3 linked regions of the Homo sapiens genome follow. The protein of the gene in region 2 purifies or fractionates together with the protein of the main gene of each other region. This does not show direct contact. Each region holds a gene or a part of one and is shown on either strand. Other genes may lie near its edges.

Region 1 (3,432 bases), on a different chromosome or scaffold from region 2:
ATGTGTTATGCTGTAACAGAAACCAATATAAGCCCCACCTGGCCTCTAGTCATAATGTATAGACATTAAAAACACACCAGGTAATTATCCAAAAGGAGCAGAAGACAACTCACGCTTTCTGCATTTTCAATTCCTGGACATGTGATGCTAGAGAGCAGAGACTGATGTATTTCTTTTTTCTTTTTTTTTTTTTTTCTGAGACAGTGTCTCTCTCTGTCACCCAGGTTGGAGTGCAGTGGTGTGATCTCGGCTCACTGCCAGCTCCGCCTCCCGGGTTCACACCATTCTCCTGCCTCAGCCTCCTGAGTAGCTGGAACTACAGGCGCCCACCACGACGTCCGGCTAATGTTTTGTATTTTTAGTAGAGACGAGGTTTCACAATGTTAGCCAGGATGGTCTCGATCTCCTGACCTCGTGATCTGCCTGCCTCAGCCTCCCAAAGTGCTGGGATTACAGGCATGAGCCACCACGCCCGGCCAACTGATGTATTCCTATATCCTGGTCCTTAGCAGAGTGGGTAGTATAGAGCAGGTTCTCAATTTCATTTAACAAAGTTTCAACCTTCTGGGCAGTCAGAACTACATTGCTTACAGCTTTGGAGCTGCCCTGGCAGCCAGGTACAATTATCTGAGCAAAACCCAGCAAAGTCCTTTTTTTTTTTTTCCACCTAGAGGAAACTCCAGGCACAGGAAGTGGTTCAGACAAAGCCACCCAGCAACCAGGGTAGGTGTGTGTCCACATGCAAACGTGTCTTGCTTTGTACAACACAGCAAAGGACCATGTGCAGTGGCCCCTGCCTCAGCCCGCAGCAGCCTCCCACGGCTTAGCTAACCAGCCAAACCCTGGCATTTTGCTTGTAATTGTACCTCCCAGTAAAAAGTCCTGGTTGGAGTGGTAAAAATAGCAACTGCAACTTCCTGCAACACAGATATACCAGTTGATGCCTGAAAAGAAACCTGGTGATTCGACCTCACTCCAACTCAGCGAAATGCCTTCAAGCTGCGCTCACAATGGCAGTGGGACAGGAGCCCAGCAAAGGCAGCCGACCCACCCCCCCGCCCCAGGAGGACCCATGCAAAACCAGCTCTAGAGTGAGATGCTTCCCTTACTCTCTTAATGAAACACCCAACTCTCAGAATCAGGAGGTGTCTAATAAACGCAAAAACTGCTTTCAGCGAGGCCCCTCCCCTTTCCCTTCTCCTGCTCACTAGCTGCAGAGGTATAAAGGCAGAAGCCCTCCCTACCAAAGCCCTTTGAGGGTCCCATTGTCCCCTTGGTTACCCTCTCCCTTCCCCCTACCTACATCTGTCCCTGAGATTGTTCCAAGTAGGTCAGGCTGGCTGGGATCACAGGAGCCTCCTCTGAAGCTTGGTTCTGAGTCATCTCCAGGGCAGCAGGGGAGTCATGGCCAAACCTGGATGTTGCTTCCTGAAGGGTGGGGAGAGCCTGGCCAAAACGTCCCCAGGTACCCAGCAGTAATGAATTCCTCTGGGGCCCAGGCCATGGTCAGCAGTTCCCTGGCTCCTCTATCATGGGGCCCGATGCCTCCTGGGACCACACAGGCAAGTAAACAGGGTTTAGTCTGTGGTGGCCACTGCCCCTTTCTGGGCCTTTCTCTGGACCAGCTACGGAACTCTCTCTGTCCTCCTGGCTCATTTCTTTATTCCTGCAGACAGGTGACAGATCATTGACTAAGCCAGCCCTCTGAGAAGAGCTCTCAAGCCCAGCCAGATGGCTCTCAGCCAGGTAAGGCCCCGTGCATCTCTGGGACAATAGGCAGACACCTCCCACCTAAGGCCAGCTCCACTGCACAAGGGCAAAGTCACCCCAGCTCCTCCCCTGGATATGCTGGCTGTTTAGAAACACCTGAATTCACTCAAATGTTCCAGATATTTCCATTTCGCTAGTAAAAACCATGCCTCTTCATGTTTGCAGAGCTTTTCAGCATAAAATGAACTTTCAGGAATGTTTTCCCATGCAAAAAATACAGCAGCCTAGTGGGGGGCAGGGGCGGGCAGGGATTAAAGGGCTTCATTTCACAGATGAGTACCCAGCTGAGGTCAGGAGACCAATAAGAGGCAGAACCAGCACTCAATAAACTTTGATCTTCTGGAAAGACAAAAGTGGACTAGAATCAAAGGACAAAGCCTGAATAAACATTTTTTTTAATGGAACAATGAGATTCCACCCGCCCCCCCACCCCATCACATTAGCTAAAACTAAAAATGTGGATAACATCAAAAATTTGGGGGCTGGGCGCAGTGGCTCACGCCTGTAATCCCAGAACTTTGGGAGGCCGAGGCAGGTGGATCACCTGAGGTCAGGAGTTTGAGACCAGCCTGGCCAACATGGAGAAACCCAGTCTCTACTAAAAATACAAAATTAGCTGGGCGTGGTGGCGCTTGCCTGTAATCCCAGCTACTTGGGAGGCTGAGGCAGGAGAATCGCTTGAACCTGGGAGGCAGAGGTTGCTGTAACCTGAGATCATGCCATTGCACTCCAGCCTGGGTGACAAGAGCGAAACTCAGTCTCAAAAAAAAATTAGGTGAGTCTGTAGAGAAATGGGCATTCAGGCACTATTATTAGTGAAAGAGTAAACTGGGTAAATCTTTGCAAAGGGCATTTGGCTTTGACAATGAAAATTTAAAATAATCACACTTGCTCAGAAAGATGCATGATGAAGGACACACAAGATTTCATTGATCATACAGGGAAAATGAGGCATTACCTAAAGTCTCTCCTTAGGACACAATGAGAGGAAATGATGGTTTGGCTGCAGTGTGGAATATGACGACGCTGTGAAAAAGAGCTCCACCACACACTAAGTGGTATAAGTTGTAGAGTATTGAGTATGATTCAAATTATGTAAACACAAAATCTGCACATACAACGGAGGACTAGAAGGGTATGCACCCATCTGTGGACAGATACAAAGGAGGGGATGGACCCTCACACTGTGCTCCATCTTTTCCTATATTTTTCATTTATAAAGGAAATCCTAGCTGGGCGTGGTGGCTTGCGCCTGTAATCCCAGCTACTTGGGAGGCTGAGGCAGGAGAATTGCTTGAACCCGGGAAGCGGAGGTGAGCTGAGATCGCGCCACCGCACTGCGGCCTGGGCAATGAGAGGGAAACTAGATCTCAAAAAAAAAAAAAAAAAAAAAAGGAAATCCATTGATATATTATTTAAATCAGAGAAAAACAATAAAATGAAAGAGAACAATGTTATCCTCAGTCTCTCCCTGCACCAGAAGACTGCAGAATGTCAGGGTCTGGCACCTCTCTGTGCCTCATGATGTCTCTGTCCGCAGCCCACGCAGGCCCAGCCTTTGCACGAGCTGTGCTACCCACCTGGCAGGCCTTTCTCTGATCCTCCCACGGCTGGCTCAAATGTCACCACCCCAGAGAGGCCTTCCTTGACCCCTCTTCGGAG
Region 2 (3,650 bases):
AGAGATATAGATCAATGGAACAGAACAGAGCCCTCAGAAATAACGCCGCTTATCTACAACTATCTGATCTTTGACAAACCTGAGAAAAACAAGCAATGGGGAAAGGGTTCCCTATTTAATAAATGGTGCTGGGAAAACTGGCTAGCCATATGTAGAAAGCTGAAACTGGATCCCTTCCTTACACCTTATACAAAAATTAATTCAAGATGGATTAAAGACTTAAATGTTAGACCTAAAACCATAAAAACCCTAGAAGAAAACCTAGGCATTACCATTCAGGACATAGGCATGGGCAAGGACTTCATGTCTAAAACACCAAAAGCAATGGCAACAAAAGCCAAAATTGACAAATGGGATCTAATTAAACTAAAGAGCTTCTGCACAGCAAAAGAAACTACCATCAGAGTGAACAGGCAACCTACAAAATGGGAGAAAATTTTCGCAACCTACTCATCTGACAAAGGGCTAATATCCAGAATCTACAATGAACTCAAACAAATTTACAAGAAAAAAAAAAACAACCCCATCAAAAAGTGGGCGAAGGACATGAACAGACACTTCTCAAAAGAAGACATTTATGCAGCCAAAAAACACATGAAAAAATGCTCACCATCACTGGCCATCAGAGAAATGCAAATCAAAACCACAAATCAAAACCACTTTTCATTAAAAAGTTAGGAAACAACAGGTGCTGGAGAGGATGTGGAGAAATAGGAACACTTTTACACTGTTGGTGGGACTGTAAACTAGTTCAACCATTGTGGAAGTCAGTGTGGCGATTCCTCAGGGATCTAGAACTAGAAATACCATTTGACCCAGCCATCCCATTACTGGGTATATACCCAAAGGACTATAAATCATGCTGCTATAAAGACACATGCACACGTATGTTTATTGTGGCACTATTCACAATAGCAAAGACTTGGAACCAACCCAAATGTTCAACAATGATAGACTGGATTAAGAAAATGTGGCACATGTACACCATGGAATACTATGCAGCCATAAAAAATGATGAGTTCATGTCCTTTGTAGGGACATGGATGAAATTGGAGATCATCATTCTCAGTAAACCGTCGCAAGGACAAAAAACCAAACACTGCATGTTCTCACTCATACGTGGGAATTGAACAATGAGAACACATGGACACAGGAAGGGAAACATCATACTCTGGGGACTGTTGTGGGGTGGGGGGAGGGGGGGAGGGATAGCATTAGGAGATATACCTAATGCTAAATGACGAGTTAATGGGTGCAGCACACCAGCATGGCACATGTATACATATGTAACTAACCTGCACATTGTGCACATGTACCTAAAACTTAAAGTATAATAATAATAAAATTAAAAAAAAATTTTTAAATTTGAGACAGAGTTTTGCTCTGTCGCCCACGCTGAAGTGCAGTGGCGTGATCTTGGCTCATTGCAACCTCTGCCTCCCAGGTTGAAGCGATTCTCATGCCTCTGTCTCCTGAGTAGCTGGGATTACAGGTGTGTGCCACCAAGCCTGGCTAATTTTTGTATTTTCAGTAGAGATGGGGTTTTGCCATGTTGGCCAGGCTGGTCTCAAATTCTTGACCTCAGGTGATCCACCTGCATCAGCCTCCCAAAGTGCTGGGATTACACGTATGAGCCACTGCATCCAGCAAAATTATTGTTCTTTTGTTAAAATGCTATATAAGCTCAAGTTCTAACAACTCCTTGGAGTTATTCATGGCTGGGTGCTCCCGTGTGTATGTGAGATGCACATGTTAATAAACTTCTGTTTTTCTCTTGTTAACCTGTCTTTGGCCAGTCTTGTTTATAGGGCCTCCACCGAAGAACTAAGATGGGCAGAGGGAAAAAAGAATTTTTCTTTTCTTTTTTTTTTTTTGAGATGGAGTCTCGTCCTGTCACGCAGGCTGGAGTGCAATGGTGCTATCTCAGCTCACTGCAACCTCCGCCTCCTGGGTTGAAATAATTCTCCTGCCTCAGCCTCCCGAGTAGCTAGGATTGCAGGTGTGTGCCATCATGCCCAGCTAATTTTTTTTTTGTTGTTGTTATTTTTAGTAGAGACAGGGTTTCACCATGTTGGCTAGGCTGGTCGCGAACTCCTGACCTCGTGATCTGCCCGCCTTGGCCTCTCAAAGTGCTGGGATTACAGGTGTGAGCCACTGCACCCGGCTGGGAAGAGAATTTTTCTTCCCTTGCACCGTCACTGAGCCTCCAGACACAAGAGAGACGATGGTGGCACGGAAGGAATTCCAGGACAATCCGCGTTCTCAGCTCTTGAACCCATAAACCCTTGTGGTTTTGGTTCCTGCCCTGAAGCTCCCTCCTCCCCGAAGGCTGCCCCAGGCATGGCTCCTACCCCCTGGGAATGGAGGTAGTCCATGGTCTTGGTGATGGTGCACAGGACGTCACTGGCTTCGCGCTCCGAGAAGTATCTCTGCCGGAGGATGCGGTCCAGGAGCTCCCCACCACGCATCAGCTCCATTACCAGGTACACAAACTTGCCATCATCATAGACCTGCGGAGTGGAGAAGGGGCGCACACGTCACCACGGCTGGTTGCTGTGAAAGAGCAACTACTCCAGAGGGGACAGGAGAGGGAAGTCAGAGGGGAGAGGCTGGGACCACAGGGTCCTATGGGAGTGCAAACAAGGCTTCTGCAGGGTAGAAGCAAATGGCCATTCCTGTCATACCATATGTGCTCTTTTTAGGAAGAAAACGGCTTTAATAATCTGCTGCTAAGCAGGGACTGAGTAAGGACATACAAGATGGGCGTGTCCTTAGCTGAGATGAATGGCTTCATGACTCTGCCAGGAGATATTTGTTATTTATTTATTATTATTATTTTTTGAGATGGAGTCTCGCTCTGTCACCCAGGCTGAAGTGCAGTGGCGCCATCTCAGCTCACTGCAACCTCCAGCTCCTCCTGGGTTCAAGCGATTCTCCTGCCTTAGCCTCCCGAGTAGCTGGGATTATAGGTGCACGTCACCATGCCCAGCTAATTTTTGTATTTTTAGTAGAGACAGGGTTTCACCATGTTGGCCAAGCTGGACTCAAACTCCTGGCCTCAAGTGATCCGCCTGCCTCAGCCTCCCAAAGTGCTGGGATTACAGGCGTGAGCCATAGTGCCTGGCCTGCCAGGAGATATTTAGACGTTAAGAAATGCAAATGTTGGCAAACCACCTTGCAAGAGCAGGGCCTCAAGGCAGTGCTTTTCAAACTGTAACGTGCATCCAATCCAATCTTGGGGATCTTGCTAAAATGCATGTTCTGGTCCTGCAGACTGAGGTGGGGCCTGGCCCTCCGCATTTCTAACCAGTTTCCCATGATGTCTGTGCTGCTACCGCATGGACAGCACTGAGTGGCCAGGCGCTGGGAGCACAGAGAGGCTAGGCAGAGTCCAGGGCGAAGTTACATATCAGAGCCGTGCTGTTGCTTCAGAGAAGCAATAGAAAAAGATAGTTTTCTCCATACTGGCTTTTATCTCATAAACTAAATAAAAACAATATGCTCTGATTATTCTTTTTATGTTTCGATTTTTTGAGATGGAGTCTCTCTCAGTTGCCCAGGCTGGAGTGCAATGGTGTAATCTCGGTTCAGTGCAACCTCCACCTCCCAGGTTCAAGCAATTCTCCTGCCTCAGCCTCCGGAGTAGCTGG
Region 3 (3,650 bases), about 160 Mb from region 2:
TTGAAACAGAGCCTAACTCTGTCACCCAGTCTGGAGTGGAGCAATCCTCTAATCTCAGCCCCCTGAGTAGCTGGGATTACAGGCATGCACCACCACACCTGGCTAATTTTTAAAAATCTTTGGTAGAGATGGGATCTCACTATGTTGCCCGGGCTGGTCTCAAATTCCTAGGCTCAAGTGATCTCCTGCCTCAGCCTCTCAAAGTGCTGGGCCTTCTGCTTCCCTGGGCTTTGCCAGGCCTCCCTATGCATTGTGATAGCCAAAGTTTGCTTTCTACAAAGTCACCTCCAGGCAGTGACTGTCCACCAGGGCACTGTAGAGCCTCCCAGCTAATGATGAAGTCACTCACTCTCCTCTCTTTTTCCTTTAAGATAATCCCTTTCCAGACCCGCCATTTTGGCTCACCCTGTAAGTTACAGCCCCACTTCTCACTGCCAAGTGTGGGTGTCACTGCTGGCTCAGGGAGCATGGATCCTGTAAACTTGCCTCATCGGGAGGCTTTGAGGAGTGACCCCCAGGAACTAGACAAGTAACTTGTTCTTCACAATCACTGCCCTCCCAAGAACATCCAGGATTTCAGCCTCAGTGCTAAGACAACCATGTCTCTCCCTGACACATGCTCGCTGCTGAGAATTCTAGGAAAAGCAGAGGGCTGTGCAGGCGCCCCTGCCCCTAGGCTAGGAGAGCTGGCAAATGCCTGGAGACCCAAAGGCCTCATCCTCAGGGCGGCCAACTCTTCTGTTTTAGTGATATACAGACTATCTTTTATTGTGATTTATAGTGCAACTTACCGGTTCAAACAATACTACCTGTATTCATAAACTTTCTTTTTCCTTTCCTTCCTCACTGCCCAGCTTTAGGTTCATTCTTGTAAGTGTTGCTGGTGTCAGAATAGGAACCTCCCTGCGCTTTGAAGGGATGAATGTGACCTCTCCCACATTCTCCGGTGCTGTGATGTACCTTAAACACAGCAAGGTACTTGGACACAAAGCCTGTGCCTGGAGCACTTTCAGACAGACAGTGCATGGCCCTCGCTACAGACTCAGTGCCATTGTAGATGTTTCTGCATGGAAAATACATAAACACAAATATCTGCAGTTGCCAATCCACCACCATCTTGCAGCCCCAAGAGAGCCCCGGGAATCCAGGTTCCTTTGGTATTTCTGCTCCCTGCCCTTGGTGCATAGCCTCCATCCCCAGGACGACAAGAAGGCTGACTGAGCCCTAACATCATCCCACAGTCCAGCTGGGAAGAGAGCCAGCGACAAAGCCAGAGGGAGCTAGCTCCCACACCTCCCAGCCCCAGCTGAGTTCGCTTCTTGAGGGTATTTCTTGGAAGCCCCGCCTGTGACTTCTGCTGACACCTCACTGGCCATCTCAACTGCAAGGCAGCCTAGGAAATGTAGTGCTTACCTGTACACGTGGATTCCTGGAATCAATTCAGGGTCTGTCCTTGGGGAACCAGAGTGGGGATATTCAGTCACTAAAGATGCAGGTTCCCAGCTGTCCAGTGAAGTCAAGCGAATGGGGAAGGATTTGAAGTCACCTTTGGGTGTTTGGAGTGATCAGAGCTGTCTGCCCTCTTGGGGAGTGACAGTGCCCCACTCTGTTAAGTCCCATGCCTGCCCCCAACTCAGCTTCAGCCACAATGATGTAGCCTCTTTTCCTTTCCATCCACAGGGCACCTGGCCTGGGTGGAGCCCACTCCTCAGCACCCACCTCACTTCTTGCAGTATTCTGCAGACCCCAGCCCTGTGCCTGTGCTCCTGGACAGCTGGAGATAAGGAGTGGGCCCTGGAAGATGCTCATTCAGGCCCTGCTCAAGATTCCAGTCCTGGTGGGGATAAGCACCACTTTTGTGTGTCTCTGTGCTTTTTGTTTTGCTGTAAAGACACACTGATAGGTTCACGTTGTCGTTTGGACACAACATGCGCGATGCGTGTCTTCACACTAAGCCCTAGTCACACTCTCTGCATTGTTTTTTTATCCCATTTTTTCCTACTGTGGTACAGAACATCTCACATAAAATTGACCATTTTAACCACTTTTTTTGTTTGTTTGTTTTTTGTGTTTTTGGACAGAGTCTCGCTCTGTCTCAGCCTCCCGAGTAGCTGGGATTACAGGTGCACACCACCACGCCCGGCTAATTTTTGTATTTTTAGTAGAGACGGAGTTTCGCCATGTTGGCCAGGCTGGTCTCGGACTCCTGACCTCAGGTAATCCACCTGCCTCAGCCTCCCAAAGTGCTGGGATTACAGGTGTGAGCCACGGTGCCTGACCTCATTTTAGCCACTTTTAAGGGTAGAATTTTCTGGCTGTTTTCATTCATGTACTGATAGACACTTGGGTTGCTTCCATGTTTTAGCTGTTGTGGAAAATGCTGCTTTGAACATGGGTGGGCAAGTGGTTTTCAAGACCCTGCTTTCAGTTTTTTGGGTTCAGAGTAACGAATGGAATTGCTGAGTCATATGTTAATTCTCATTTTTCTAATTGTAATTTTTGGGGGCACAGCACCTCTCCAGCAGCGGCAGCACTCGACCTTTCCCCAGCGGTGCACGGGGTTCCAACTTCTCCGCATCCTCACCTACGTGTGTTTTGTTTTTTGGTAGTAGTAGCCATTCTAATGCGTGTGATATGGGATCTCATTGTGGTTTTGATTTGCATTTCCCTAATGATTAGTGATGCTAAGCATCTTTTCATGGCTTACTGACCATTCATACATCTTTGGAGAAAAGCCTACACAAGCCTTCTGCCCATTTTTGCATTGAGTTGTTTGCTTTGTTGTTGTTAAGTTTTATCTGAGCTGTTTTTTTATGGTAGGGAGAGTGGGTTTGTTGGAGTCTCCTTGTATCTCCCAGAAGGAAGCCAGAATTTCAGAGATGGCCAGGAGGGGGTGAGGCCAAAGGCTCCCCTGGGGAGAACTCACGTTTTTCCAGAGCCCCATTGTGTGCCAGCCACCGCACATAGCAACTGTCTCTCTCTCACTCTTCTGGGCCATGCTGTGACTTTGTTGATGAGGAGGTTGAGGCACAGAGGGGTGGAGGGATGTGCTGCAGGGCCCACAGCTACAATGGGCAGAGCTGGAAATTGCACCAAGTCTGTCTGATGCGGGGGTCTCCTCTGCTCCTCTGGCCTCCGCTGCATCCCTGGAGAATCTCTGAGACTTCTGGTTAGAGCCTGGGTCTAAGCCAACTCCCATTATTTTCAAGTGAGGGGAAGGGCCGACAACTGCCAGTGCTGGCCCACCAGAGTCTGGCACCAGCCGAGGAGTGCACGCACCCATTGGTGGTGTGGCGGTTCACTGATCCCCCAGCCTTCTGCTCGATCTACGGGGAAAACTGGGGAAGGCAGGAAGGCCAAGGAGGCTCAACTCCTGCTTCCTACCGTGGCTCATTTCCTGGGTCCTTTGCTGTATGACTGTCTGGATGGAAGGTTCAGAGTCCTCTCAAAAAAGGAAAAAAGTATGGGTTTTGACATCCTGCGTGGCTTGTCCTCTGAGGCCTAAATCTCCAGAAGATTCCTGGCCTCTCTTGAGAGGTCTTTCTCTGATGTGTTTGCGTGTCTGTCAGGAAGCAGCAGTGATGCCTAGATGTGGTACATTCGACCTCACCTATGCCTCTCCCCACCCCCTCTGGGTTCGTTTTGTCTTC

What was found.
Region 1: the proteins of RPS6KA2 (region 2) and KLHL25 purify together in Homo sapiens (affinity purification with mass spectrometry; one large-scale study listed by BioGRID and IntAct). This does not show direct contact.
Region 3: the proteins of RPS6KA2 (region 2) and NQO2 fractionate together in Homo sapiens (co-fractionation; one large-scale study listed by BioGRID). This does not show direct contact.

What each region holds. Positions count from the first base shown.
Region 1 is NC_000015.10:85,784,915-85,788,346, forward strand, and holds part of KLHL25 (kelch-like protein 25), read right to left. Parts: exon of another isoform or gene 1,304-3,432; intron 1-1,303. UniProt on the Homo sapiens protein: Substrate-specific adapter of a BCR (BTB-CUL3-RBX1) E3 ubiquitin ligase complex involved in various processes, such as translation homeostasis and lipid synthesis.
Region 2 is NC_000006.12:166,428,102-166,431,751, forward strand, and holds part of RPS6KA2 (ribosomal protein S6 kinase alpha-2), read right to left. Parts: intron 2,511-3,650; coding exon 2,352-2,510; intron 1-2,351. UniProt on the Homo sapiens protein: Serine/threonine-protein kinase that acts downstream of ERK (MAPK1/ERK2 and MAPK3/ERK1) signaling and mediates mitogenic and stress-induced activation of transcription factors, regulates translation, and mediates cellular proliferation, survival, and differentiation.
Region 3 is NC_000006.12:3,002,815-3,006,464, forward strand, and holds part of NQO2 (ribosyldihydronicotinamide dehydrogenase [quinone]), read left to right. Parts: intron 1-854; exon of another isoform or gene 855-975; intron 976-1,680; exon of another isoform or gene 1,681-1,837; intron 1,838-3,650. UniProt on the Homo sapiens protein: The enzyme apparently serves as a quinone reductase in connection with conjugation reactions of hydroquinones involved in detoxification pathways as well as in biosynthetic processes such as the vitamin K-dependent gamma-carboxylation of glutamate residues in prothrombin synthesis.